Regions from separate parts of the Homo sapiens genome. Here regions 2 and 3 are each linked to region 1. The links come from fine-mapping of genetic effects on gene expression. A gene starts in region 1. Each other region holds a variant in brackets. All regions are shown on one strand. Distances are between the middles of the regions. Region 1 holds the start of PATJ (PATJ crumbs cell polarity complex component). Region 2 overlaps PATJ (PATJ crumbs cell polarity complex component). Region 3 has its middle 25 kb from the start of L1TD1.

What was found.
Region 2: its variant is fine-mapped to the expression of PATJ in aorta (GTEx, PIP 0.95).
Region 3: its variant is fine-mapped to the expression of PATJ in lung (TOPMed, PIP 0.95).

Annotation. Positions count from the first base shown.
Region 1 is chr1:61,738,024-61,746,203 of GRCh38, forward strand. PATJ (PATJ crumbs cell polarity complex component) reads left to right here and starts at 4,457. Exons shown (of 44, transcript NM_001350145.3): 1 at 4,457-4,532. It overlaps PATJ-DT (PATJ divergent transcript), which reads right to left and starts at 4,761. Exons shown (of 1, transcript NR_185910.1): 1 at 3,975-4,761. RefSeq lists a silencer at 4,209-4,918.
Region 2 is chr1:62,146,896-62,155,075 of GRCh38, forward strand. It overlaps PATJ (PATJ crumbs cell polarity complex component), which reads left to right. Exons shown (of 44, transcript NM_001350145.3): 42 at 1,389-1,495; 43 at 6,463-6,586. Among named protein-coding and RNA genes, the nearest start is that of L1TD1, 44 kb to the right of the region's middle. The variant T/TA (reference allele first, on the strand shown) is at 3,921.
Region 3 is chr1:62,165,395-62,173,574 of GRCh38, forward strand. No RefSeq gene overlaps it. Among named protein-coding and RNA genes, the nearest start is that of L1TD1, 25 kb to the right of the region's middle. The variant CTG/C (reference allele first, on the strand shown) is at 3,217.

The DNA.
Region 1 (8,180 bases):
AGTTTACATTAAATTAACACAGACCGAGTATAGTGGCTCACGCCTGTAATCGCAGCATTTTGGGAGGCCGAGGCACTTTGGGAGCACTTTGGGAGCCCTTGAGCCCAGGAGTTTGAGACCAGTCTGGACAACATAGAGAGGCCTTGTCTCTAAATATAAAAAATTTAAAAAATTAGCTGGGCATGGTGGTGCATGTTTGTAGTCCCAGCTTCTCAGGAGGCTAACATGGGGGAATGGCTTGGGCCCAGGAGTTCAAGGCTGCAGTGAGTTATGATCTCACCACTGCTCTCCAGCCTGGACAACAGAGTGGGACCCTGTCTCAATTATTTATTTATTTTTCTTTTTTTTTTTTGAGATGGAGTCTTGCTCTGTTGCCCAGGCAGGAGTGCAGTGGCATGATCTCGGCTCACTGCAACCTCCGCCTCTTGGGTTCAAGCAATTCTCCTGCCTCAGCCTCCTGAGTAGCTGGGACTACAGGTGTGTGCCACCACGCCTGGGTTATTATTGTATTTTTAGTGGGTTTTCCCCACGTTGATCAGGCTGGTCTTGAACTCCTGACCTCCGGTGATATACCCGCCTCGGCCTCCCAAAGTGCTGGGATTACATTCATGAGTCACTACACCTGGCCTGAAAAAATTAATTAGTTAATTAACAACACAAAGGAAGAAGGGTGGTTGGTGAGGTAAAATTAATTAACAGCACAGAAATGTAGAGAAAATCAGGTTAAAACTGATAGAGATGATGTTTCCTGGGGTGGCCAGGGAGGCAGCTTTTCAGAAGGGGTTAGACTTGAGTCTAGCCCTAGAAGGAGGGTAGGGCTTACAGAACATTCCAGGCAGGGGAAAGTGGGTAGGTAACGAACAGAAAAGCCATTGGTGTTCCATGGATATGGAATAGATAAATTTGCTCAGAGTAAGATCCTCCAGAGGTGAAGTGGAGATTAGGTTGAAGAGTCAGCAAGAAGGGGCCGGGCACAGTGGCTCACGCCTGTAATCCCAGCACTTTGGGGAGGCCAAGGCAGGCAGATTACCTGAGGTCAGGAGTCTGAGACCAGCCTGGCCAACATGGTGAAACCCCGTCTCTACTAAAAATACAAAAATTAGCCAGGTGTGGTGGCAGGCGCCTGTAATCCCAGCTACTCAGGAGGCTGAGGCAGGAGAATCGCTTGACCCCGGGAGGTGGAGGTTGCAGTGAGCTGAGATCACGCCATAGCACTCCAGCCTGGAATGCGAGACTTTGTCTCAAAAAAAAAAAAAAAGAAAAGAAAAGAGTCAGCAAGCAGGGGAGAGTTTGAAGGGCCTTGAATAGCAAGAAAAGGAGTTTGGACTTGGTTTCATGGTCAACTTAAAGTTACATAGCTTTTTGAAAATAGGGGAATATGTTCACAACATCATTTAATATTAAAGTAAGAAGAGGCAGGCTGGGTGTGGTGGCTCATGCCTGTTATCCCAGCACTTTGGGTGGCCGAGGTGGGTGGATCACCTGAGGTTAGGAGTTTGAGACTAGCCTGGCCAACATGGTGAAACCCATTTCTACTAAAAATACAAAAATTAGCCAGGTGTGGTGGCGGGCGCCTGTAATCTCAGCTACTCAGGAGGCTGAGGCAGGAGAATTGCTGGAACCTGGGAGGCGGAGGTTCCAGTTGCACTCCAGGGTAGGGCCAACAACAGCGAGACTCTGTCTAAATAAATAAATAAGCCAGTCATGATGGTGCATGCCTATAGTCCCAGCTACTCGGGAGGCTGCAGTGGGAGGATCGCTTGAGCCTAGGAATTTGAGGCTGCCATGATTGCACCACTGTGCACCAGCCTGGGTGACAGAGTGAGACCTTGTCTCAAAAAAAATTAATTAATTAAATAAATACAAAATAAAATAAGAGGAGGCCAGGCATGGTGGCTCATGCCTGTAATCCCAGCACTTTGGGAGGCTGAGGCAGGAGGATGGCTTGAGGCCAGGAGTTTGAGAGTAGCTTGGGCAACATAGTGAGACCATCTCTCTACAATAAATAAATAAAGAAGAGGTGCAATAGCCAGGTGTAGTGGTGGTGCCTATAATCTCAGCTTTTCAAGAAGGATATTAAGGTGGAAGGATTGCTTGAGTCCAGGAGTTTGAGGCCAGCCTAGGTAACATAGTGAGATTCAATTTCAATTTAAAAAATAAATAAATAAAAATAAATTTAAAAAGAAGAGACCAATGTTTGCAAGGTGATTCTTTGAGATAATTGGTCTCCACCTTTCTTTTTTTTCCTATTTAATTTTTATTATAGGTTCAGAGCTACATGCACAGGTTTGTAGGCCAGGTGCAGTGGCTCACGCCTGTAATCCCAGCACTTTTGGAGGCTGAGGCGGGTGGATCACGAGGTCAGGAGTTTGAGACCAGCCTGGCCAACGTGGTGAAACCCCATGTCTACTAAAAATACAAAAAATTAGCCGGGTGTGGTGGCTGGCACCTGTAATCCCAGCTACTCAGGAGGCTGAGGCAGGAGAATGGCTTGAACAGGGAGGCAGAGGTTGCAGTGAGCTGACTGTGCCACTGCACTCCAGCCTGGGCAACAGAGCGAGACTCTGTCTCAAAACAACAACAACAACAAAAAAACCAGGTTTGTTACATAGACAAATTGTAGGCCATGGGGTTTGATATACAGATTATTTCATCACCCAGGCAATAAGTATAGTACCTGATAGGTAGTTTTTCAATCCTCTCCCTTTTCCCACTCAATCTCCAACTTTATTTTGCCCCCGACTTGGAAAGCCTTTCCTTCTCCATTTTACCTAAATTAATCTCAGACTCTGGTTAAGACCTGTTTAAGTTCTAACCCATGCTTTCAAAAAACATAATAGATCTCTTCATTTTCTGAGGTCTGGCTTCCATCTGGCAATTTGCCTGTTATTTCCCTCAGTAGTTTGTTAGTTCCTAAAAAGCAGAAACCATGCTGATATTGTGTGTCTTCTTACCATGACTAACAAGTGTTACATTTCTTTTAAAACAAGGAAGCAAACTACAAAGCACCAAGTGCATGATCTTAATTTTATTTATTTATTTATTTATTTGAGATGGAGTCTTGCTCTGTCGCCCAGGCTGGTCTTGAACCCCTGGGCTCAAGTGATCCTCCGACTTCAGCCCCACAGAGTAGCTGGGACTACAAGCTCACGGCACCACTCCGGGCTAATTGTTGTTGTTGTTGTTGTTGTTGTTTTTGAGGCGGGGTCTCTCTCTGTCACCCAGGCTGGAGTGCAGTGGCAGGATCTTGGCTCACTGCAACCTCTGCCTCCTGGGTTCAAGTGATTCTCCTGCCTCAGCCTCCTGCGTAGAGGGGACTACGCATCCACCACACCCGGCTAATTTTTGTATTTGTAGTAGAGACGGGGTTTCATCATATTGGTCAGGCTGGTCTCGAACTCCTGACCTCGGGTGATCCACCCGCCTCGGCCTTCCAAAGTACTGGGATTACAAGCGTGAGCCACCGCGCCCCGCCTGAAAGTCTTTATGTTGTAGTTGTTTTGTATCTATTCCTCATCTTCCTGGGGACAGGGATACCATTTTACACATCTTCCCACAATCAATCACAGTGTTTAACAATTACTGTATGTACTCTATGAATAAGATACCTGAAGATTGATTCTCTTTATCGTTAATGTGTGGACTGTATCAGGCAAAGTAAAACCCCTATCATCAAAAGCCTAAAGTTATTAAAGGGAGTGGAAGAAGGCTATCGGGACATATTTTTCTCGAAGGTGTGACATCACAAATAAAAGAAAATTAACGTATAGTGAAATCATCACTGTAGTTAGAGTCAAAATGCCTTGCCTGTGTTCCAAACTTTGGGCCAGTCAACCTACAGGGTGCACGGTTTCCTCATTAGTTTCTTCAGAGAGTAAATGAGACATTGCATAAGCTAGCACCTAGCATACAGCAGGCAAATACTGCTGGATTTCTTTCTTCCACTAAATGAGAAGAAAATAATGACTCCCACATTTACACGTTTTAGAATATTTTATTTTGCGTCAGCGAATAGAGAAAACAAAGGAGGGATGAGAGAACAGGAAAGGAAAGGGGCAAAAAGACAAAGTGTTAAGCGGATTGACCCAACGCTTTCATCGATATCCTCCTCAATTTCCTTGATCTTGGGTCTCGCTCTACACGCAGGCCTCCAACCACACCGGTCTGTCCGGATCTCCCTCCCCGTCAGTGGCGGCTGTCCCCACCACGCGCGGTCTGATCCGCCACCCCGCCCCCACAGCCCACTTTTCCCAGGCCCTTGGCCATCCCGCGCCCGGTAGGAATTCACCTGCACGTAAACAGCCAGGGCAACCGTCCTCCCTCCTTGGAGCCCGCCTCCCGCGGCCCCGGGCTCCCTCCCCCGCCCCCTGCGCCACCCCGGTGCCCCGCCCCGGGCGGGGAGAGTCGGGGCGAGGGGAGGGCCTGCCAGGTGAGGCGCGGTCACCCTGGGCCTCTCACTTCCGCCCAGGTGAGGCAGGGCCGACACCGAGCCCGCCCGACCCGGGCTCCCACCTGCTCCTCCAGCGCACCAGGTAAAGCGTGAGGTCCCGGCTGTGCAGTGCGCGCTCGCCCCTGGGTGTCCCCGCGCCTGGAGGCCGGCCGGGGGCAGCTCCCTCGGGGCTTCCCGGGCCTGCCTGCCCTGCCCCCGCGCTCTCCCCGCCCGCCCGCCTGGAGTGGGTGGGAGCCGGAGGTGGAGGGCGCCGCCGGGCGCTCAGAGGGGCCGCGGCGAGGATGGGGCGCCCGCGGCGTGCGTCCGCGCTGACCCGGGAGGCGGGGCGGGGGCGCCGTCCTCCTGCGTCGGGCCCGGGTGACCCCACGGTGGTCCCCGCCCCGCCGCGCAGGGCTCGCCGAGGCCGCGGGCAGGGAGGGGCGCCGCCCCGCCTCCCCAGGCCTTTCGGGCCTCGAATCTCGGCCCACTGGTATTCGGGGGTGGCACGGATCCTATTTTGCGCCCAGATCGGTGCCCCTGTTTCGCTCCCAGAGCTGGGCGGAGTCTTTCCCTCCATCGGTGGCCGTGGAAGGAGGGAACGGGGTGAGGGGACAAAGAGGAGGGGGTGCTCAGAGCCGGGCTGAGGGGGCGACTTGGGCCCGGCCGCGTCGCGGCGCCTGGTCATCCCGTAGCGGAGGTTCCCAAGCCAGCGGTCAGGCCCTGGGCTCTGCCAGCCTTGCTGCGTAGATGGGGAGGTTCTGTCGGAAAGTGCTTCCAGCCTTAGGGGAAATTCCTGGACTCCTGCTTTTAAATCAAGCTCAGGAAAGCATTTTCAGATCACTCCCACTCTCCAAAGCGCCCCAGCCGTCCCGCACGCAGGCCGAATTAAGTGAACACCCCTTCACTTGGCACTTTGTCATATTTCCAAGTGGCTCTTGTCACTTTGAATTCCAGTTGGTTGTTTACTGGCTTGCCTCTGCCATTTAGAGGGTGCCCCTTTCAGGGCCTTATTTTTCGACTGCATTTAGGGTCTGGCTATTGGTAGGTGCGCGACAAGTGTTTCTTAAAGGAAGGCAGAAGCCTTTGGAAACCCAGAAGGACAATGTCGGTTCCACTGAGGATGATACTACCACATTCTGGGCTAAATTCCTATTGGCTGCAAATTAATTTGCACACATCTATTTGAAAGGAGTGGAGGCAGGGGCAGCGGTTAAAAACTTAAATCTGTTTGCAGCATTAGAAAATGTTAGGTGAGATTGAGCCTTTTAGCTAAAGTGAGCTTTGATGTTTTTAGGGCCCCTAATGGCCTTTAAGATGTTAACAATAACAACAACAACAAAACACTCCAAATGTGTTGAATTTATTTGGGAATGAGAAATGAGCGTTATAGCCCGAGGTGCACAGGCCTGGCAAGCCATATATGCATGGAAGAGGGGAGGGTAAAAGGAAACTTTTATTGGCAAAGTAAGTGCAGATAAGCTGCGTGAAAACAGAGTTTATTGGTTTTGCAGACTGAAAGCCAGAGTTGGCCATTGTTGAAGATGCCATTACTGGGCAGGTGTTATGGAGAGCATCTTATCAGGCCTGGCAACCTGCCTCATGCCTGTTATCTCAGCTACTTAGGAGGCTTAGGCAGGAGGATCGCTTGAGGCCAAGAGTTGGAGACCAGCCTGAGCAACATGGCTGTCTTTACAGAAAAAGCTTTTTAAATAGTCAGGTGTGTCGGGAGGTTGAGGCAGGGGAATTGCTTGAGCCCAGGAGATGGAGGCTGTGGTGAGTGGTGTTTGCACCACTACACTCCAGCCTGGGTGACAGAGCAAGAACCCTGTCTCAAAAAAAAAAAAAAAAAAAAAAGGAAAAAAGATTATCTTATCTTATCTTATCTGAATTACTGCATTCCTAAAGAAAGAATTTCTTGGGTGGTTATTTTAGTTCCTTCTTGAGACCGATCTTTATCTCAGACTTGCAAGCATGAGCTTTCTCCCTCAGGCTCTCTAGTTTGTTTGGGTTTGACAAAAAGTGATTTTGACCTGGTATCTGCAACTTTCACAAAGATAATAACAAAGTTAATAAATATGGAAATACTTATGGATAGAACTTATAAAATGAGTTCTGAAGAGATTTGCCCTTACTAGTCCAGATCCTATTAGGAGTAAGAGAAAAAACACAAACTTTTTCCTCTGCTCTCACACCACTACAGTCAACACTGAGGACTTCTGTGACCAAATAAATGTGTGGGCCCATCAGTTCTGCATCAAGCAATAGCTGAGCATCTAACAGTTCGATTCTGAAACTATTTACCTGGGGATAGTGTCAGATCCCATAAGACTGCCCTCACTTCTGATGCCAATCACAAGTCCTAGATTGTTTTACCCCGGCTTCTGACTAACCACCTATAAATTGGGAATCCCATAACTCCCTCCTCTGGGTTGGTTAACTTGCTAGAGCAGCTCACGGAACTCAAGAAAACACTTATTTAGGTTTATTACTAGTTTATTATTAAGAATATTACAGAGGATACAAGAGGAAGAGATGCACAGGGTGAGGTATGAGAAGGGGCATGCCACCCTCCAGGAACCTCCATGTGTTCAGATATTGAGAAGCTCTCCCTACCCCATCTTCTTGGGCTTTTTATGGAGACTTCATTGAGTAGACATAATTGAAGCATGGGGTAGGGAAACCCAGCAATGCCTATCTGTTCAGATTTTTCTTGGCCTCTCTCTGTAGCATTCCTTCCTCCAGGGTATGGGCAGGACCCCTTCTTATGGGGGTCTTATGACCTACAATCAGACAAGGGAGATCAGATAATTTTTTTAAATATTTATTTATTTATTTATTTTGAGACAGAGTCTTGCTCCGCTGCCCAGGCTGGAGTGCAGTGGGTGATCTCAGCTCACTGCAACCTCCACTTCCCGGGTTCAAGTGATTGTCCTGCCTCAGACTCCTGAGTAGCTGGGATTACAGACATGTGCCACCATACCTGGCTAATTTTTGTATTTTTAGTAGAGACAGGGTTTTACCATATTGGCCAGGCTGGTCTCGAACTCCTGACCTCAAGTGATCCACCTGTCTTGGCCTCCCAAAGTGCTGGGATTACAGGCGTGAGTCACTGCACCTAGCCAAAATTATTTTACTTTATTTTATTTTAATTAATTAATTTATTTATTTGGAGACGGAGTCTTGCTCTGTTGCCCAGGCTGGAGTGCAATGGCGCTGTCTTGGCTCACTACAACCTCTGCCTCCCAGGGTCAAGCGCTTCTCTTGCCTCAGCTTCCCAAGTAGCTGGGATTACAGGCGCCTGCCACCACACCTGTCTAATTTTTATATTTTTAGTAGAGATGGGGTTTCACCATGCTGGCCAGGCTGGTCTCGAACTCCTGACCTCAGGCGATCCACCCGCCTTGGACTCCCAAAGTGCTGGGATTACAGGCGTGAACCACCGGGCCTGGCAATTATTTTTTTTTTTAAAAATTTTTATTCATTTATTTTATTTATTTATTTTTGAGACAGAGCCTTACTCTGTTGCCCAGGCTGAAGTGCAGTGCCGCGATCTCCACCCACTGCAAACTTCACCTCCCTGGGTTCAAGCGATTGTCCTGGCTCAGCGTCACAACCTCAGGTGTGCGCCACCACCACTGGGTAATATATATATATATATTTTGTATTTTTAGTAGAGACAGGGTTTTGCCATGTTGGCCAGGCTGGTCTCGGACTCCTGACCTCAAGAGATCTGCCCGACTTGGCCTCCCAA
Region 2 (8,180 bases), 410 kb after region 1:
GAAAAATCAAGCTACAGTTGCCCAAGATGAAGAAGGCTCCAGGAGCAAAGGTTGCAGGGAGCAAAGCCTCCATTTTAGACATGTTAGCTTTGAGATTCCTGGAGACGTCCCATAGATGTCTATGGACCCAGTGACAACTGGATCCATATATCCAGTTGTGACATCCAGTGGGTGACTGGATATATGGATCTGGTGTTAGGTAAGCATTGGAGCTAGAGGTACAGATTCAGGGATTATCATCACTTAGATGGCATTTACATTCATGAGATGGATGGGATGGGATATGGGATGGGATGGAATGGGAGACAATGGGATGGGATAATATGTTTAATGGAAAAGATAAGAAGCTCAAGGACTAAGCCCTGTGGCCCTCAGTTAGAGGTTTAAATAATAGAAGGAATGGCCAGAAGTGTGGAAAATAAACTAGTGAATTGTGGTGTCATGGAAGCCAAACGAAGAAATGAAGAAAATAGTTGAAGGCCGGGCACAGGAGCACATGCCTATCTATAATCCCAACACTTTGGGATATCGAGACGGGCGGATCACTTGAGCTCAGATGTTGGAGACCAGCCTGAGCAACATGGCAAAAACTCCCTCTACAAATACAAAAAAATTAGCCAGGGCTGGGCTTGGTGGCTCACGCCTGTAATCCCAGCACTTTGGGAGGCCAAGGTGGGCGGATCACCTGAGGTCAGGAGTTCAAGACCAGCCTGGCCAACATGGTGAAACCCCGCCTCTACTGAAAATATAAAAATTAGCTGGGCGTACTGGCACTCGCCTGTAGTCCCAGCTACTCGGGAGGCTGAGGCAGGAGAATCACTTGAACCCAGGAAGCAGAGGTTGTAGTGAGCCGAGATCGTGCCACTGCACTCCAGCCTGGTGACAGAGCGAGACTCCGACTAAAAAAAAAAAAAAAAATTAGCCAGGCATGGTGGTGGGTGCCTGTAATCCCAGTTACTCAGGAGGCTCAGGCAGGAGAATCATTTGAACCCGGGAGGCAGAGTTTGCAGTGAGCTGAGATCGCGCCATTGCACTCCAGCCTGGGTGACAAGAGTGAAACTGTCTCAAAAAAAAAATTAGCAGGGCCTGGTGGTGCATGCCTGTGGTCCCAGCTACGTGGGAGGCTGAGGTGGGAGGACTGCTTGAGCCTGGGAGGTCAAGGCTACAGAGAGCCAAAATCATGTCACTGCACTCCAACCTGAGCAACAGAGTGAGACACTGTCTTTAAAAAAAAAAAAAAAAAAAAGTTTGAGAGAATAGTCCTTGTGTCAAATGGTCTAGATAAATTGAATAAGATTAGGATTGAGAACTGACCCTTGGATACAGCATGGTTTCTCTAATTCTCCCCTTCTTTATAATGAAATACCTTTTTTTCACTTTTTCCCCAGGTTGTAGCAGATACCAATATAAGCGCCATAGCAGCTCAGCTTGAAAACATGTCTACAGGCTACCACCTTGGTTCGCCCACTGCTGAACACCATCCAGAAGACACAGAGTGAGTATTTCAGATGCAGAGGGCCTATTATGCATGTGGGCAAAGCTCGGAAGAACTTTTCCAGACACTCAAGTGCACTCTAAAGGAGAAGTGGCCAAAGCGCCCGTGACTTTTTCTAAATTCTAGGGAATCCTTATTTCTCACAAGGCTTAATTCCACCACATGAGTTCTTGAAAGACCATTGTTGCAGGGCCTGCACACACACTGCATCTGGTCACTTTGACACAGTGCCTATGCCTGCTTCCCTAAGAAACCACGGATGTATAGCCCAGGTGCACGCTGCTTTATTGTGCAAGGAACCACGTTTCCTGAACTTCTAGGCTAAAATCTTGTTCTGAGATGAAATCTTGTTGTTATACTTGCTGACATGTTTCATTAAAACCAGTCATCGCAGTTAAAGTTGTTCATTAAAGCAGGGTTTCTCAAACTAGAATATGCATAAGAGTAATCTAAGGGCCGGGCTCAGTGGCTCATGCCTGTAATCCCTGCGTTTTGGGAGGCCGAGACGGGTGGATCGCCTGAGGTCAGGAGTTCGAGACCAGCCTGGCCAACATGATGAAACCCTGTCTCTATTAAAAATACAAAAAATTAGCCAGGCGTAGTAGCGGGCACCTGTAATCCCAGCTACTTGGGAGGCTGAGGCAGGAGAATTGCTTGAACCCGGGAGGTGGAAGTTGCAGTGAGCCAAGATTGCACTACTGCACTCCAGCCTGGGCAACAAGAGGGAAACTCCATCTCAAAAAAAAAAAAAAAAAAAGAGGAGTAATCTAGGGAGCATGTTTAAAGATGCGAATTCCCAGGCCACATCCCAAAATTCTGACTAGGTGGTCTGTGGTGGATTCCAGAAACCTGATGTTAACAAGTTTCCCAGAGTGATTCTGCTACAGATGGGCAAAGGATCTACACTTTGAGAAATGCTGCCTAAAGCTATTCCTCTCAGGTACCAGCAGTGCCTGGTCACTAGTAGGTGCTCAATAAATGTTTGTTGACAAATCTGGATGGTTCATTTGAAGGATCTCATGGTCATAGCCCGTCCCAATTTTTTCCTGGTAGTTCCCCACCTAAATGACATCTTTGAGTTTATTTTTCTTGAGGAAAGAATATTAAATTAAGCTCATTCTACCTTTTTCTCATTATAAAAGTTAATACATGCATGCCATGAACATATGACAACACATAGAAATATAACATTTTTCAAATTACGGTGGCCTTTTCCTTAAAAAAAAAAAAAAATCAGGACCTTTATAGGAAGTACAGCGTACCTTTAGCATCCTTTGATGTGGCTATGGAAATACAGAGATCCCCTTGTAATCTTAATTCCTTTGCTATAATTCCATGCCTCTGGCAGGCTGGGAACCACAAGCTTAAAGGAATTTAAAAATCACTCATAATCCCACCACTGCTAACACTGGGATTTTTTTTTTTTTTTACTAGCCTTCTATATGAAAGTAAATTTAAACTAATTGGTTGAAAATGTTATGATATTGTGAGATCAATAGAGGCAAATTCCATCTGATGTTGCCAGTTGAGGAGTAGAGCCACACTCCTCCCTCTTCCCCTGAAAACATGTCCCTGAGTATAGATAGGCACAATTATAAGGGTCTTTAATGATTTGATGGCCACAGGAGGTAGCTCTAAAGCAATGGCTTTGGGCATCTAGCTTCTCATTCCAGTATCTTTGGAAATGGGGGCTGTGTTTGAAAGAAGAAACATGAATCGAATTTGTATCCAGCTGGTGAGCTGTTACTGAGAGTGCTTGTAAGGCCACAAAGTGGGGAAAAGTAGAGCCTTATTCATGAGTCATAATCATTCACCTATAGGGGGCAATTCATCAGTATCTCAACAGATATTTATTGAGCACCATTCTAAGGCCAGACACTTAGATACAAGTGCTAGGTCCTGAGGACTCAAACTTAGAAATGTAAGTAAAGATATTGCCCCAGTCCCCAGAGAGCTGCCAGAGAAGTGGAAAAACAGACCCATAAATCCATAGTTATAAAAGATAACTGTAGGAGAGCTAAATTCATTGAGAGAGGGTCCTGTGAAACCATGGATATGGGGCATAACTCAGTTAAGGAGTGTAGTTGGAGAAGCTGATGCTTAAGCTTAAGAGAACTGGAGCCAGTTTTAAGAGAACTGGATCCAGCATAGTGGTGCATGCTTGTAATCTCAGCTACTAAGGAGGCTGAGGCAGGAGGATCACTTGAACCCAGGAGTTTGAGGCTGCAACGGGCTGCAGTTGTGCCACTGTACTCCAGCCTAGGAGACAGAACAAGACCCTGTCTCAAGAAAAAAAAAAAAAAAAAAAAAAAAGAATTGGAATAAACAGGTGGCATTCAAAATAGTTAAGTGTGGTGGCTCACTCCTGTAATCCCAGCACTTTGAGAGGCCAAGGCCTGGGCAACATGGTCAGACCCTGTGTTTA[T/TA]AAAAAAATGTAAAGACAAACAAAACAGTTAAAAACAGTTAACAAGGCCGGGCGTGGTGGCTTACGCCTGTAATCCCAGCACTTCGGGAGGCCGAGGTGGGCAGATCGCCTGAGGTCAGGAGTTCAAGACCAGCCTGACCATGGAGAAACCCCATCTCTACTAAAAATACAAAATTAGCCAGACGTGGTGGCACATGCCTGTAATCCCAGCTACTCGGGAGGCTGAGGCAGGAGAATCACTTGAACCCGGGAGGCAGAGGTTGCGGTGAGCCAAGATCACGCCATTGCACTCCAGCCTGGGCAACAAGAGTGGAACTCTGTCTCAAAAAACAAAACAACAACAACAAGAAAAAGAAATCAGTTAACAATTTATATAGCATAGATCGTCAGCAGTAACTATGGATGTCTGCTGTAAACAAACAGTAAGTACATCAACAAACAACTGGTAACAATGTGAACCAGCTGAAAACCCTTTAATAAACCCAGCAAAATTGGCCAGGCGGTGGCTCACGCCTGTAATCCCAGCACTTTGGGAGGCTGAGGCGGGCAGATCATGAGGTCAGGAGATCGAGACCACCCTGGCTAACATGGTGAAAAACCCCGTCTCTACTAAAAATACAAAAAAATTAGCCAGGAGTGGTGGCAGGCGCCTGTAGTCCCAGCTACTCGGGAGGCTGAGGCAGGAGAATGGCATAAACCCAGGAGGCAGAGCTTGCAGTGAGCCGAGATAGCGCCACTGCACTGCAGCCTGGGTGACAGAGCGAGACTCCGTCTCAAAAAAATAAATAAATAAACCCAGCAAAATTGAGGAGGGAGAGAGGGAAGAATATTCTAGTTAAATAGAACAACATATTCAAAGATTGCTTGTGTCCCCATTTTGCAAATTTCTCTAAGTACATGAATGGCTGAGTTTATATGAGATGACTTCGCCTCTCAGACATGCATGTTGCCACAAAACAAAGGATGCTGCCAGTACACGAATATGAACTACCTATCATAAATAAGACAGGGTCTGGGTTTCTGCCTTTTGAGCAATAGCATTTGGGAATAAGAAATTGGCATCACCTAAACTTAGATTAAGATTAAATTACTGGGAGCCCACATAGGTAATTTAATTTTTAGCCATGTTGTTTCTAAGAGAGAAGACTTCCACACTGGATGAAGCTTTGAAAAGCTAAATTTTACATTTGAAACAGATTTTCTTTCTCCATTTTGTTTCACCTTGGTTTCTCTCTTCTCTCCTGGATTTCAGTTCTCATCTACACAGTCATGATCCTGAGTTTCTGACAAGCACCACACATGGTACTGGGAAGTCTCAGATGACTAAGACAAAGAGGTTATAGTCTGGTAGAGGAAATGGATGGCTAAGTAATTACAATATGATACAGTCAGTGCCAAAATGGAAATTTGGACTCAATGTAGGGGAAGCACAGAAAAGGCTGTGGGACCCATCCTCCCAAGGGAGGCAGGAGAGCCTCACATTGGAAGTGAGTTTGGAGAATGAGTTCCTGCCTTAGGTGGAAGTGGCCAGGGCGTTCCGGCAGAAAAGGAGCAGCAGTCTGAGTGCGGCAGCTCACGCCTGGAATCCCAGCACTTTGGGAGGCGTCAGGTGGATCACCTGAGGTCAGGAGTTCGAGACCAGCCTGGTCAACATGGCGAAACCTCATCTCTACTAAAAATACAAAACTTAGCTGGGCATGGTAGTACACGTGTGTAATCCCAGCTACTAGGAGGCTAAGGCAGGAGAATTGCTTGAATCCGGGAGGTGGAGGTTGCAGTGAGCCAAGATTGTGCCACTGCACTCCAGCCTGGGTGACAGAGCAAGACTCTGTCTCAAAAGAAAAAAAAAAGGTAAAAGAAAAGGAGCAGCAGTTTCCTGAGCTGCGAGCTGATGTTATCTGTTATGGACAAGAGTTTATGTGAAGACTGGCAGTCTCCCACCACACTAGGAGACACGCTACCTCTGTCTCCATGCACATGCTTCAAGGATGTGACGACAGCTTCCTTCAGCTGTCAGCAGTAAGTTTAAAAGTTAAAAACTGGCCGGGTGCAGTGGCTCATGCCTGTAATCCCAGCACTTTGGGAGGTAGAGGCAGGCAGATCACTTGAGGTCAGGAGTTCGAGATCAGCCTGGCCAACATGGTGAAACCCCATCTCTACTAAAAATACAAAAATTAGCCAGGTATGGCACACACCCATAGTCCCAGCTCCGTCTCAAAAAAAGAAAAAAAAAAGAGTTAAAAACTAAGCATATAGAAGAGTGCTTTGACAATTTCAGCATCATGACTTTATCTTTAATTAGCAATCAGTGAGTTTTATGAAAGAGAAACCTCTAAAACATCAAGAATATTGGTGATTAATTAGCATGACATGAGAAGTTAGAAAATAACTTTCTAGATTGCTTTCTGAGAGTTTGATCTGATAAACCAAACTTCATAGTTTTGCAGTATGAAAGTCTCTCTCAAATCTGTATTCTTCCAATTAAATGAAATTCCCTCTCAATATCTATTCTCGAATTAAACAGCATGCATTGTGTTTTCAGAACACCTCCACCTAAGATTATTACTTTGGAGAAAGGCTCTGAAGGCTTGGGGTTTAGTATTGTAGGGGGTTATGGAAGTCCCCATGGAGACCTGCCAATTTATGTCAAGACTGTATTTGCAAAGGTATATCTTCTTTTTTAATGTACTTTTTTAAAAAAATTAAACCTAGGTGAGATTTCTTTTAAGTGCTTTGCTTTGCTTTACTTTGGGTCAAACCTGGATGTGTGCATGTATGCTCATTTCATTTGAATCTTATAGGAAATTCTCACACAGGAATAGTGGGAGAAGAGTTCTTTTACAATGGCGGAGTCACAAGAAGTGCAGTCTCCTTTGGATTCTGTGACAGAAGCAGATGCTCACAGATTTTTAGAGTGTCTTCTTTCAGCAACACAGCATAAGGAGCAGTGCCACTCTTTAGAAGGTGTCCTTGGAAGTATTGTTCTGAGCTAGAACAAAAAAAAGATTTGGCTTTCTTCTTGAAAATAACAGGCACCAGGGGGCTGAGGCAGAAAGGTTTGTGCTGTGCAAGCCTCGAATCAGTGCATTCTTTATTTTATTTTTTGAGAGGGAGTTTCGCTCTTGTCGCCCAGGCTGGAGTGCAATGGCTTGATCTCAGCTCACTGCAACCTCTGCCTCCCCGGGTTCAAGCAATTCTCCTGCCTCAGTAGCTAGGACTACAGGCGCATGCCACCACGCCTGGCTAATTTTTGTATTTTTGGTAGAGACGGGGTTTCGCCATGTTGCCCAGGCTGGTCTCAAACTACTGAGCTCAGGCGATCCACCTGCCTCGGCCATCTAAAGTGCTGGGATTATAGGTGTATGCCACTGTGCCCAGCCTGAGTAATTATTTTTAACTTCACTGATTTTTTTAATTGGAATTTAATTTTTTATAAATTTTGAAGATCTCTGAGAAGTATTTCAAATTGATACTACAGTTTTTTTTTCTTCTTTGGTTTTATCATAGTCATTTGTTTATGAACAGATCTTGTTGAACTGCTTTGTTTTCCTAAAGAAATAAAGGTCTTCGAGGCTGGGCATAGTGGCTCACGTCTGTAATCCCAACACTTTGGGAGCCTGAGGTGGGTGGATCACCTGAGTGCAAGACCAGCCTGGTCAACATGGCAAAACCCGTCTTTACTAAAAAACACAAAAATTAGCCGGGCATGGTGGCACATGCCTGTGATCCCAGCTACTTGGGAGGCTGAGACATGAAAATCCCTTAAATCTGGGAGGCAGAGGTTGCCATGATCCCAGATGATGCCACTACACTCCAGCCTGGGCAATCCATCTCAAAAAAAAAAAAAAGAAAAGAGAGAGAGAGAGATAAAGGTCTTTGAAAGGAGAAATAAGAAGGAATCTGTCTCTTTCCAGAAAGCTAAACTATACATTAAATACAAGCTTGCTTTTACCTGTGCAGATCTTAGATCTTATCACCTGTTAATTGGGCCCAGTGACCTGCCATAAAACCCTTTAGTCATTTGGCATTTACTTTTGGACCACATTGAGCAGCTGCACATTTACCCCCTTCCTGCATCTTGCTAGAATGCCTAATAAGGCATGTTATTCCCAAACAACCTGTTAAACTGGTGATAGGCAAAAGAGGAGCGGAAAGGCAGCACAGAAACATTCTGGGTAGCAGAATGCTTATCCCCAAGGTAGATAAACCATAAACTGACCATCCTTCTCCTATGACACATTTAACACCCTAAGTTCTTGG
Region 3 (8,180 bases), 430 kb after region 1:
ACTCCTGGGCTCAAGCAATCCTTGCACTTCAACATCCTGTGTAATTGAGACTGCAAGTGCACGCCACCTTGTCTGGCACAACTAAAATTTTTTGCACCCAATTTTCTTAATTTTATGTTTTATTTATATTTTTTCTATTAAAGTCAACCAGAACAGTGAGTTTTTTTTTTAACACAAAAATTTAAATTTAGGTTATAGTCTCAGTTGTATGCCAGCCTAGTGCAAATGTTAAGTTTTTGACAGCTTGACTTTCAATCTTCAGATGCTCTATATTTAAGTAAAGATAAAAAAAAAACATTTCACTCTCTACACAATCCCAAGATAAACTGACATTTGGAAGAGTCATGTGTGTGTGTGTGTTTGACGGTGTATAAAAGACTCTCACCCCTGCCTTGCCTGAGCAGCATATCCATTTCCAGTCATGTGAAGGAGGAAGCAAGAAAGTTGCTTTGGTCTTGGGTCCCTGAGAGATTGCTGTTGGGTATCAGGACCTATGCTTGGCAAAATTATACAGGAACAAACATGTATCTGATCCTCCTTCTAGAATCAGTTTTTTTGAAATGGAGGCAACCTCAGAACTGGGAGTCGGTCCTGCCTGCTACACCACTCCTCCCATTTTACAAGTGGGAGACGCGTGCCAGAGAAAGGAAGTGACTATCCCAGTCCCCCACTAGCTTGCAGTCCTAAGAGTTTTCCAATAAACCTTAGTGGGAATTCACCAACTTAGCAAACTACGGTAGAGTACTCACACATGGCTACTAAATTAGTTCGAAATATTCTCGAGAGCTTTTTTTTCCTCTTTTGAGTCAGGGTCTCACTCTGTCACCCAGGCTGGAGTGCAGTGATGCAATCACGGCTCACTGTGGCCTCAAACTCCCCGTCTCCAGTGACCCTCCCACCTCAGTTCTCCAACTGGCTGGGACTACAGGTGTGCGACACCACGTCTGGCTAATTTTTTTTTTTTTTTTTTTTAAACTTTTTGTAGAGATGGGGCTCTCGCTGTGTTAAGACTATTTTTAAGGGCAGTTTTGGCCAGGCACGGTGGCTCACACCTGTAATCTCAACACTTTGGGAGGCCGAGGTGGGAGGATCACTTGAGCCCAGGAGTTTGAGACCAGCTTGGCTAACATGGTGAAACCCCATCTCTACAAAAAATACAAAAATTAGCCAGGCATGATGGCCTGTGCCTATAGTCTCAGCTACTCGGGAGGCTGAGGTGGGAGGATTGCTTGAGCCTGGTAGGTTGAGGCTATGGTGAGCTGTGTTTGCACCACTGCACTTCAGCCTGGGTCACAAAGTAAGACCCTGTCTGCGAAAAAATTTCAAAAGGCAGTTTTAAGTTAACAGCAAAATTGCGAGGAAGGTGCAGAGCTTTCCCACATACCTGTGCCCTCACTCACACAGCCTCTCCCATTATCAACATCCTCCACCAGAATGGTACATTTGCTACAGTGAATGAACCTATATTGACACATCATTCTCACCCAAACTCCATAGAGTACCTGAGGGTTGAATCTTGGTGATGTACATCCTATGGGTTTGGACAAATATATGATATGTGCCTACCATAAAGGTATATGGAGTATTTCCACTGCCCTAAAAGTCCTTTGTGTGCTCCCTATTCTTCTCCAACCCCCTTCCCAACCATGGAAACCAATTTTTTTTTTTTTTTTTGAGATGGAGTCTCTCTCTGTCTCAGAGGCTAGAGTGCAGTGGCACAATCTTTGCTCACTGCAACCTCCGCCTCTCAGGTTCAAGCGATTCTCCTACCTCAGCCTCCTGAGTAGCTGGGATTACAGGCGTGCGCAACCACACCCAACTAATTTTTGTATTTCTAGTAGAGACGGAGTTTTGCCATGTTGGCCAGGCTGGTGATGAACTCCTGGCCTCAGGTGATCCACCTGCCTCGGCCTCCCAAAATGCTGGGATTACAGGCGTGAGTCACGGCACCCAGCCCGTCTTCCATGTCTTTTCATGACTTGATAGCTGATTTCTTTTTAGCACTGAGTTATACTCCGTTGTGTGGATGTACCACAGTTTATCCATTTACCTACTAAAGAACATTTTGGTTGCTTCCAAGTTTTGGCAATTAGGAATAAAGCCACTATAAACATGTGTGTGCACAGCCTGAATTTGTAAGTTTATTTCAGTTTTCCCTCAACACAACCACAAGATTTGGTTCCACAATACAAGCACAAGATTTAAAAAAGATTAAAATAAAGAGTAGAAGAAAACAAACAAATGAAAAAAGGACACATCTTTTGGATGTAGACAAAGAAGACCTAGTCTATCCACTCACCGTATATCTCCACATCCTGGGAAGAATTTCCAAGGCCAGGCACTCTGGATACCCTCCCCCCTCATGGTTTAAACCTTCTTCTTCTCTAGATAGACATAGTTGATGACAGATGAGGTGTTTCAATGGCTCCTCCTGCCTAATGGCTTTACTGGGCATGCCCCCAGCATTACTCTCCCAGGAGAACAGAAGAAACGGTAATGTCTTAAAGGGACTCCATCATTCAACTCCTCTCAACCCCAGAGCCATGTGTTACTCTTTGGGGAACTTCAGGATAGCTGTCTGAAAACAGTCCAGGGAGGCTAAAGTGGAGGATCACTTGAACCCAGGAGTTCGAGATCAGCTAGGGCAACATAGTGAGACCTGATCTCCACAAAAAGTAAATTAGGCTGGGCTCAGTAGCTCACATGTGTAATCCCAACACTTTGGGAGACTGAGGTGGACGGATTGCTTGAGCACAGGAGTTTGAGACCAGCTTAGGCAACATGGCAAGACCCTGTCTCTACAAAAAACACAAAAATGAGCTGGGCCTGGTGGCACACCTGTAGTCCCAGCTACTCCGGAGGCTAAGGTGGTAGAATCACCTCAGCCCAGGGATATTGAGGCTGCAGTGAGCCTTGATCGTGCACTACAGCCTGGGTGACACAGTAAGGCCCCTATCTGAAAAATAATAAATTACTTAAAAAATCAGCCTGGCACAGTGGCACGCACCTGCAGCCCCACCTACTTTGGAGGCTGAGGTGAGAGGATCGCTTGAGCCTGGAAGTCGAGGCTGCAGTAAGCGATGATCACACACTGCACTCCAGCCTGGGCAACAGAGTGAGACCCTGTTCCTCCTCTCCCACTCCCCCCAAAAAGAAAAGAAACATACTCCAGTGGCCCCCATGCCATGAGGAATAAGATTCACCTGTTCTTAAAGA[CTG/C]AGAGCAGAAACTTCCTGTCCAACATTGTATTAGTTAGTGTTCTCCAGAGAAACTGAACCGAGAGGATTTGTATGTATTCAGAAAGATTTATCATAAGGAATTAGCTTTTGCAGTTACGGATGTGGGCAAGTCCAAAATCTACACTGTGGGCCAGCAGGCTCAAGACCCAGAAGATAATTTTCTGTGAAGAATGTTTCACAGCTGGGCATGGTGGCACGTGCCCGAAGTCCCAGCTACTCCAGAGGCTGAGGGTGGGAGGATCACTTGAGCCCAGGAGGCAGAAGCTGCAGTGATCTGAGATGGCGCCACTGTACCCCAGCCTGGGAGAAAGATCGAGACCCTATCTCAACAACAAACAAAGCAAACAAAAAAAGGAACATTGATCTCATCCAAAAACACCCTCCAAATTCACAGATCAAGCATCAGACATCATGAGACCTTGAACAGACCCCTCTAGGGACGGCCTTGCCTTAGGGAAAGTGCAGAAGTGTCCACTATCCTTGTTTACAACCCCTTTCCAGCCTCCCGCCCCCTCTGGTGTCCACAACTGTGGTGCAGTCACCATCATCACTTCTACCATCCCAGAACCCTCAGGAGCAGATGGCTTGAGATCTTGCCTCTGCCACCCCACCACCCAAGGACCCTAAGTATTTGTATACCTAATTAGGTGGCTTCTCAGTGGACTCAGGGTCAAGTCTAAACTCAGCATGGATGTTAGGCTCTTCATAATTTAGCTTCCACCTTAACCTCCAGCAGTCGTGTTAACTCTCGTCTCACTAAGCACTTATCCCAGGATAAGCCGGACTCTCACACCCTTAGGCCTTTGCGCACACTATCCATTGGCATAGACAGCACTGCTGCTCAAGATGTGACTGCAGACCACCATCATCAGCATCACCTAGGAGAGGTGCAAATGTATGCCCTAGCCTAGACCAACTGCATCAGAATCTCTGGGGTAGGGCCAAAAAATCTGAGTTTTAACAAGCTCTTCTGGTGATTCTAAACACTAAACTTTGAAAGCCTGGAGAACACTCCCCTTTTTTTCCAGTCTGTGGTCATTCACAAATTGCCGAGTTCTTTTCTGCCTCCAGTGGCTAAAGGCAGAAAGAAACACAAGGCTCCTTCCTTGCTGCCTTGCCACTGGAGGTATTTTACCTGTTAGAACCAGTCTCAGACTGAGTCTGCACCTGTACGAACTTTTTTTTTTTCTTGAGACAGGGTCTCACTCTATTGCTTGGGCTGGAGTGCAGTGGCGCGATCATGGCTCACCACAGCCTTGACCTCCCAGGCTTAGGTGATCCTCCCACCTCAGCCTCCCCAGTAGCTGGAACTACAAGTGCATGCCACCACACCCACCAAATTTTTTGTACTTTTAGTAGAGACAGGATTTCGCCATGTTGCTCAGGCTGGTCTTGAACTCCTGGGCTCCAGTGATCTTCCTACATCAGCCTCCCAAAGTGCTGGGATTACAGGCGTGAGCCAGCACACCCAGACTGAACTTCTTTCTTTTTTTTTTATTAAAACAGGGTCTCACTCTGCCACCCAGGCTAGTGTGCAGTGGTGAGACTAGGATTCATTGCACCCTCGACCTCCTTGGCTCAAATAACACTCCTGCCTCAGCCTGCTGAGTAGCTAGGACTACAGGTACACACCACCACAGTGGGCTTTTTAAAATTTTTTGTAGAGACGAGGTCTTACTATGTTGCTCAGGCTGGTCTAAAACTCCTGGCCTCAAGCGATCCTCCCACTCAACCTCCCAAAGTGCCAGGATTACAGTTATGAGCCACCATGCCCAGGTGTATGAACATTTGTTAGCAGACAGGTACAACACACAGCCCCACCTGTCCAAAAAGCACAAACCTGACAGGGTGCGGTGGCTCATGCCTGTAATCTCAGCACTTTGGGGCCGAGGCGGGTGGATCACTTGAGGTCAGGAGTTTCAGACCCGCCAGGCCAACATGGTGAAACCTCGTCTGTACTAAAAATACAAAAATTAGCCGGGCTTGGGGGCGCCTGTAAATCCCAGCTATTCGGGAAGCTGAGGCAGGAGGATCTTGAACCCGGAAGGCAGAGGTTCCAGTGAGCTGAGATTGCACCACTGCACTCCAGCCTGGATGACAGAGTGAGACTCGGTCTCAAAAAAAAAAAAAAGAAATAGCACAAACCTGCTGCTCTTTTTAGGGCAGTGGTTCTTAACCTGGGCTATTCATTCAAATCACCTGGGGATATTTTAAAGGCTCAATGCCCAAGCACACCCCAGAGTAGGGGGAGAAAGGGAGAAATCTAAGAACCGGTATTTTTTTTTTTAAAGCTCCTCAAGGAGTTACAGGAAATTTCACTCCCAGGCAAACAACATTCAGACTTGAAGGGGTGGCCAGTCCCTCCACACCTGTGGGTATTTCTAGTTGGGTGGGACGAGAGACTGAGAAAAGTAAGACACAGAGTCAAAGTATAGAGAAAGAAAAGTGAGCCCAGGGGACCGGCGCTCAGCATACCAAAGACCTGCACCGGCACCGGTCTCTGAGTTCCCTCAGTTTTTATTGATTATTATTTTCACTATCTCAGCAAGAAGAATGTGGTAGGAGAGCAGGGTGATAATAGGGAGAAGGTCAGCAACAAAACATGTGAGCAGAAGAATCTGTGTCATAATTAAGTTCAAAGGGAGGTACTATGCCTGGATGTGCAAGTAGGCTAGATTGATGTTTCCCTCTGCCCAAACATCTCAGTGGAGTAAAGAATAACAAAGCAGCATTGCTGCCAACATGTCTCGCTTCCCGCCATAGGGTGGTTTTTCTCCTATCTCAGAATTGAACAAATGTACCATCGGGTTTTATACCGAGACATTCAGTTCCCAGGGAAAAGGCAGGAGACAGTGGCCTTCCTCTATCTCAACTATAAGAGGCTTTCCTCTTTTACTAATCCACCTCAGCACAGACCCTTTACGAGTGTCGGGCTGGGGGATGGTCAGATCTTTCTCATCCCACGAGGCCATATTTCAGACTATCACATGGGGAGAAACCTTGGACAATACCCAACCTTCCAGGGCAGAGGTCTCTGCGGCTTTCCGCAGTGCATTGTGCCCCTGGTTTATCGAGACTAGAGAATGGCGATGACTTTTACCAAGCATACTGCTTGTAAACATTTTGTTAACAAGGCACATTCTGCACAGCCCTAGATCCCTTAAACCTTGATTTCATACAACACAGGTTTTTGTGAGCTTAAGGTTGGGGCAAAGTTACAGATTAACAGCATCTCAGGGCAAAGCAATTGTTCAGGGTAAGGTCAAAATGAAATTTCTTATATCTTCCCTTTCTACATAGACACACTAACAGTCTGATCTCTCTTTTCCCTATAAGACCTTTTTGCTTTTTTTTTTTTTTTTTTTGAGATGGAGTCTTTCGCTCTTGTTGCCTACGCTGAAGTGCAATGGCACGACTTCTGCTCACTGCAACCTCCGCCTCCTGGGTTCAAGCGATTCTCCTGCCTCAGCCTCCCGAGTAGCTGGGATTACAGGCATGCACCACCATGCCCGGCTAATTTTGTATTTTTAGTAGAGATAGGGTTTCTCCATGTTGGTCAGGCTGGTCTCGAACTCCCGACCTCAGGGGCCTCAGCCTCCCAAAGTGCTGGGATTACAGGCGTGAGCCACCAGCACCTGGCCCAATATTCAGATTTTCTATCCCATCAGATAACCAACTAACTCTTCCGGAAGAGATGAGACCTTGAGAGAGGGAATGCAGAGCTGAGAATTCCAGACCTAAAGAGCTACCTGGAAGGTACTGGTCTTTAGACCCTAAGTCGCTGTTTAATCATCTTCATAGGCTAGAAATGAAGTCAGTCCAGGCTTGGGCCACATCCTCCCAAACTCACTCTCTTCCTTCCAACTTTCCACTGTAGCACTGCAGCTGATTGTCTCTGGAACCATCCAGACCAATGGAGAAAAACATGTTCATTTAGCTGAGTCCTCAGTAGGAACCAGACAGGAGGGGAGGGAAGGCAGAAAAGGCCTGGCTGTAGTGCAAGCATTCCTGACCTCCAGTGTGGCCAGAGCCTCAGAAGGTCAGTTTCAACCCCAGCCAGGTTATTAACTGACAGTACGGGAAGGTGGACGTGATCCTCATACCTGTTGGTGCTTTGTCTCTGACTATGACCAGGTTCCATTGCCTTCTAATCCCAGCTTTTCCATTGGCCAGTTAGATCCATTTGCCTGGCCTGGACATTGAGCAACAAGATACAGATGTGAGGGTTTCAGGGTTTGGCCATGGATTTCAGTCCTCGGGTGCCCCCCCGCCCCCACCCTGCCCATATCCTGCTCCTTTCCAATGTCTGCACTCTGAAGGAGACTTGTTGCTAGAATTTATCATTTTGAGTACTCTAAGTAAGATTGCTATTATAGGATACACTTAGAAAATGCTAGCAGAGGCCGGGCACGGTGGCTCACGCCTGTAATCCCAGCACTTTGGGAGGCCGAGGCGAGCAGATCATGAGATCAGGAGATCGAAATCATCCTGGCTAACATGGTGAAACCCCGTCTCTACTAAAAAATACAAAAAATTAGCTGGGCGTGGTAGCGGGCGCCTGTAGTCCCAGCTACTCGGGTGGCTGAGGCAGGGGAATGGTGTGAACCCAGGAGGTGGAGCTTGCAGTGAGCTGAGATCGAGCCACTGCACTCCAGCCTGGGTGACAGAGCAAGACTCCGTCTCAAAAAAAAAAAGGAAAACACTAGCAGATTTAGTGGTCGTTTTTTTTTTTTTTTTTTTTGAGATGGAGTTTCCCTCTTGTTGCCCGGGCTGGAGTGTGATGGTGCAATCTCGGCTCAGTGCAACCTCCACCTCCCGGTTTCAAATGATTTTCCTGCTTCAGCCTCTCGAGTAGCTAGGATTACAGGCACCCACCACCATCCCCAGCTAAATTTTTTTGTATTTTTAGTAGAGATGGCGTTTCACCATGTTGGTCAGGCT